Linked DNA regions of Homo sapiens: region 2 is linked to region 1. The links come from fine-mapping of genetic effects on gene expression. A gene starts in region 1. The other region holds a variant in brackets. All regions are shown on one strand. Distances are from middle to middle.

What was found. PIP is the estimated chance that this variant, and not a neighbour inherited with it, causes the effect.
Region 2: its variant is fine-mapped to the expression of AHCYL2 in monocytes after interferon gamma (Fairfax 2014, PIP 0.95).

Annotation. Positions count from the first base shown.
Region 1 is chr7:129,223,575-129,226,486 of GRCh38, reverse strand. AHCYL2 (adenosylhomocysteinase like 2) reads right to left here and starts at 1,457. Exons shown (of 17, transcript NM_015328.4): 1 at 1,048-1,457. The coding sequence starts at 1,410. RefSeq lists silencers at 1,124-1,373, 1,494-1,563 and an enhancer at 1,844-1,953.
Region 2 is chr7:129,334,731-129,337,642 of GRCh38, reverse strand. The region is part of intron 1 of AHCYL2 (adenosylhomocysteinase like 2); the gene reads right to left. Among named protein-coding and RNA genes, the nearest start is that of STRIP2, 98 kb to the left of the region's middle. The variant G/AG (reference allele first, on the strand shown) is at 1,572.

The DNA of each region.
Region 1 (2,912 bases):
ATTAATCCCTGTGCCCATACTGTGTCTACGAAATTGAAGCTGTAAGCCCTTTTTATATGATCCACACTTCTGTCTTTTCCAATACTTGCCCTGTTTTTCTGTGCTGATTCAGCTTTAAGAGAGAAAGAAAGACAAGCTTTGAGAGAGACAGACAACTATGGATAGACAATGTACGGGTAATACAGGGCTATCATCCACCTAGGCAGTTACTTCTTGGTATTCTGAGACCTCCTCAAAACTGTCTGAAAGAAGCTGACGCCTAAGACCGAAAACCCCACAAAGATCGTCTTTCCCAAAAGTAGCAGCATTTCTTCCTATCACTTTCAGATTATAATAAAGCAATCAATAAGACATTCATTCTCTTCATACACAGCCTAATAATCCTGGTGACCAACTATACCCAGCAGGGAGGACAAAGCTCTTAACACGAAAGAGTGAGGAGAATCTCTCCATTACCCTTTTACATATTCAGGGAAGAGAGAATATCGCAGTCGCTGGAAATGAAGGGCACAGCATCGTGTTGCTGTATGGCCACGGTTGGCCACAGAAAGGCAGAAAGTCATCAACTGTATGGAAACCAGACAACTCTGACGATTTCTATGCAAGGTGACTACACCTTACTCGTTCTCCAAGTATTAAAGATCTTTTCATCCTTATTGCTGTGTGAACTCCCGTGAGCGGTAAGGTTTTTCTATACTATCGAGGTCTCTTCCCCGATAGGCTGGAAAATCACACCCGGGAGCGTGTTGGGGCCGCGGGACGTACTATTAGGTGTCTCTCCTCCCGCTGCCTATTCCAAGTAGTAGGGGAGAGCGCTACCTCCATGTTATTCAGAGCGAAGTACGGCCGTGCCTCCTGGAGTCTCCGCTCCCAGCACGAGGGGCCGGCTGGGGGGCATCTCTGAGAGAGTGGGTTTAAGGGGACAAGGGGTATCTCCGGTCCTGCGATCAGAAAGGAGGGCGTGGAGGGTGGTGCCGCCGTGCCGAGAGGATCTGCAGTTCCCCTCCCCTCCCTTCCTCTCCTAGAGAGGCAGCCCGGCCCCAGTACCTTCTTGACTGTGCGCGGCGCCTCGGTGACGGTGCCGTCGGGGCTGACCAGGGCCTCGCCGCCGTCGCGGTGCCGCTGGTGCTGGTGATGTGGGTCGCTCCGCTTCATGGCCGACGCCTGAGGCACCTTCCCGGCGGCGGGGCTGAGAGCGGCGGCGGGCCCCGAGCCCGGGCCGGGGACCGGGGGCCGCTCCGCGGCGGGAGCTGGAGCCTCAGGGTCTCCACCGCCCGCCGGGGGGGCCATGGCGCCCACGGCGGCCGTGCTCAGTCCTAGTTGCGACTCCGCCTCGGAGGGGCTCAGGTCCTTCAGCTCCACCTCAGGCACCTTGGCGGCAGCCGCGGCTGACACAACCTGCACCGACATCACCGCCTCCGCTGCAACCACCGGCTCAGACTCCAGCTCCTGCTCTTGGTCGGCCCCGCCTCCCACCTCCCTTCCTCTTCCCTCCCCCATGTCCCCACTCCTCCCCTCCATCGCCTCCTCTCCCACCCCCTTTCTCCGCCCGCCAGTCCCGGCCCCTCCAGCCCCGCCCCGCCCCGTCCCGGTCTGGCCTCGCGCGAGGCGCCACGGAACCTGTAGTGCGTTTGCTCCCGGCCGCACGCGGCGAGAAGACCGTGGGACCTCAGGCCCCGACCTACACTGCGCGCCCCATGGGCGGGGCCCGCAGCGTCCCCTGGGAGTTGTAGTCCTTTCAGCCTTTCCTCCACTAAGTGAGATTCAGCCGAGGAGAGGGAGCGCTAGGGCCGGCAGCTAACAGAAAGGAGTGAGGATAGGTGACTCGACGGAGGGGATGAGGAAGAGAAAGTCTCCAGAGGAGTTGTGACTTCCGGGGAGGGAACGCCAAGAAGCCTTAGGGGAGGGGAAGTGGTAGAGGAATGGCTCGTTGTCCTGACAGCGTGAAGTTCCTCCGCGCGTGCCCGTCTGCGATCACGTGAGCGAGTATTTAAAGGAGAAGCGGCGGCTCCAGGCTGGAAGTGGCTTTATTTTTCTTTGTGATATTGAGAACTCAACACCCTTCCAAACTTCAGTGGCTTTGTTTTTAGAAGGGATAAAGTAGGACCTTGCTTGCTGTGGCGCTTTCTGTCACATTCTGGGTTTGGAAGCTAAGATCATTCCTCAAAGAAGTTAGGTATCACTAGATCAAAATTCAAGGCTGAGGAATTACACGTTGCCTTAAACGAGGCCAAATCTTTTCACCTATAATTCTAATAGGGCAATCATCTGAAATTCAGATACATATATCAGCATAGAGGGATATGAATAGTGAATATGAGTAGTTAATTTCCTAAGTGATGGGATTTAAGGTGATTTTTACTTTGTACTTTTCTGTATTATTTTTAAATTTTACATTTAGAGGATGTAAGCAAAAAGACATGCACCGCAGCGTCCTTTTTAATAACAAAAAACTGTCTAAAACTAATGTCCAACAAATAGAGCAATTGTTACAGCCTTTGAAAATCGTTTGCCAGCTGGGCATAGTGGTTGACGTCTGTAATCCCAGCACTTTGGGAGGCCAAGGCCGGCAGATCACTTGAGATCAGGACTTCAAGACCAGCCTGGCCAACATGGTGAAACCCCATCTCTACTAAAAATACAAAAATTAGCCAGGCGTGGTGGCGGGCACCTGAAATCCCAGCTACTTGGGAGGCTGAGGCAGGAGGATCGCTTGAACCTGGGAGGCAGAGGCTGCAGTGAGCCAAGATCATGCCACGGCACTCCAGCCTGGACAACGGAGTGAGATGCCGTCCCAGAAAAAAAGGAAGAAAGAAAGAAAATTGTTTGCCAATACTTTTTAACAACAAGGTTTTCCCTTTTTCATTCTTTACTCTGAAAGCCAAAATGTGAAGAGGAAGCTAAGAAACTCT
Region 2 (2,912 bases), 110 kb before region 1:
TGGATCACCTGAGGTCAAGAGTTCGAGACCAGCCTGGCCAACGTGATGAAACCCTGTCTCTGCTAAAATACAAAAATTAGCCAGGCGTGGTGGTGTGCACCTGTAATCCTAGCTACTCAGGAGCCTGAACTAGGAGAATTGTTTTAACCCGGCAGGTGGAGGTTGTACTGAGCTGAGATCACGTCACTGTACTCCAGCCTGGGAGAAGAGCGAGACTCCATCTCCAAAAAAATAAAAAATAAAAATAAATAAATAAATTACGGCCTATCTATACAATGGAATCCTCTATAGTTAAGACAGCAAGGCAGCTATATATGTTTTGATATAAACTATCTCCAAGATATATTTTAAGTGAAAAAAGCAAGGTACAGAATAGTGAATACAGTACGATAAAAGTAAGTTTGTATATGCATAGAATCTCTGGAAATACACTCAAAAAAATAGTAATAGTGATAGCCTTAGGGGAAAACTGGGCAAGTAGGGGAGAAGAGATGATAAAAAACTTATTTTTATTATCTATCCTTTTGAACATTTTGAATTTTGTTCATTTATTTACTAGCTATTCGAATATAAATAATTTCTTTACAAATATGTTAGCCAGCATGTAGTGGTTCACACTTGTAATCCCAACATTTTGGGAGGCCAAGGCAGAAGGATCACTTGAGTCCAGGAGTTCGAGACTAGCCTAGGCAACATGATGAGACACCCGTCTTTACAAAAAATTAAAAATTAGCCAGGCACGGTGGCTTGCGCTTGCAGTCCCAGCTACTCAGGAGGCTGAGGTGGGAGGATTGCTTGAGCTCAGGGGATTGCGGCTACAGTGAGCTGTGATCGTGCCACTGCACTCCAGCCTGGGTGACAGTGAGACCCTGTCTCAAAAAAAAAATTACGTTTTATTAATGTTTTACTATGTCTTGAATTAAACATCTCTCTATCCCAACTGCCACTGCCCCAGTTCTGGATCTCACTGCTCACCTGCACTGCTTGGGGAAGAAAAGAATTGGCGCTACTCTTTTTGCCTCCAGTCTTACCTATTTCTAATCAACTTCTATACTTCCTGCCTCAAGTGATTCCCAACTGTCTACAGAATAAGGTCCAAACTCCTGTGCATAATCTCCATACAAGAGAAAGGCAAGAAATTAATGTATGGGTTATTACTATCTGGATTAAGTTACCACTGAAAAATTTGTAACACTTATTCTGTGATCATAATTTTAAACACATTTCTTTTGCTTGGTTGTGCTTCAACCAAGCAAAAAGAAAGAATAAACTTCAGGCTGGGTGGGGTGGCTCAAGCCTGTAATCCCAGTACTTTGGGAGGCCGAGGCAGGTGGATCACTCGAGGTCAAGAGTTTGAGACCAGCCTGGCCAACATGGCGAAACCCTGTCTCTACCAAAAATACAAAAATTAGCCAGGCATGGTGGCATGCACCTGTAATCCCAGTTACTTGGGAGGCTGAGGCAGGAGAATCGTTTGAACCTGGGAGTAGAGGTTGCAGTGAGCCAAGATCATGCCACTGCACTCCAGCCTGGGTGACAGAGTGGGACTCCGTCAAAAAAAAAAAAAAAAA[G/AG]GAAAGAAAAGAGAAGAGAAAAGAAGAGAAGAGAAAAGAAAAGAAAAGAAACTTCAGTACTTATGTGCTATTCTCAATAGAAGCCATCTACTCTATGAAGAGAAAATGTGGCAGTTTTAAACACGTGGCCCCCAAATTCTCTGACATTCTTCTCACGGAAGTGGGATTTAGGACCTGTCCCCTTGAATCTGGGCATGCTTGTATCTGCTTCAACCAATACAGTACAGGGGAAGTAATGCTACGTAACTTTCAAGACAAGGTCAGAAAAGTCACGCAGTTTCTGTCTGGTCTTCTTTGGGACACGCTGGTAGAAGAGAGCCACCATGTAAAAAACCTGACTATCTTGAGACCATCATGCTGGAAAGACTACATGCAGACACTCTGACTGATGGCCAAAATCAACTGCCAGCCATGTGAATGAGCCATCTTGGACATGTAGCCCAACTGAGCTTTCAGATGACTGTAGCCCCATCTGACATCAGCCTCATGAGAAACCCGAAATGAGAATTATCCAGCTGAGCCATTCCCATAATCCTGACCCACAAAATCAGAAGCAAAGTAAACGATTACTTTAAGCCCCTAAATTCTGGGAATAATTTGCTATGCAACAACACTAACTGTAATAGGTATTTTTCTTTAACAGACAAGCTCTCCTCTTTATATTATTTAATAACAATATGGATTTTTTTTTTTTTTTTAGACAGGGTCTCACTCTGTTACCCAGGCCAAAGTGCAGGTATGTGATCATATAGCTCACTGTGGTCTTGAACTCCTGAGCTCAAGTGATTTTCCTGCTTCAACCTCCCCAGTAGCTGGGACTACAGGCATGTGCCACCAGGCCAGGCTAATTTTTTTATTTTTATTTTTTGTAGAGACAGAGTTTCACCGTGTTGTCCAGGCTGGGCTCAAGCAGTCCTCCGCCCTGGCCTCCCAAAGTGCTGGGATTACAGGCATGAGCCACCATGCCCGGCCTGCTGCTTTACTTCTCTTTTCTGCCTTAGAATTTCAGACAATTTTTAAAAAAATTCCAAACCACTAATTTCATAGGTCAAAAACTTAGGACCAGAGAAGTGAAATCACAGACCAAATCATTAACAGAATATAGATCAAATCACAGACCAAATTAGTAACAATACAGATCAAAATCCATGCTTCTTGATTCTCAATGTAGTGTTTCTTCTCTAACCTGAATTTCTTTGTATCTTCTTCTTCCTTTCTTTATTCTACTCATATTCCTTGTGGCAGAAGAGCAGCCAAAATGATATTAATCAATCACCCCTTTATGCCTTCCTCCAAAGAACCCAGATTTAAATTCACAGATTTAAACAGCATTTCTCAATT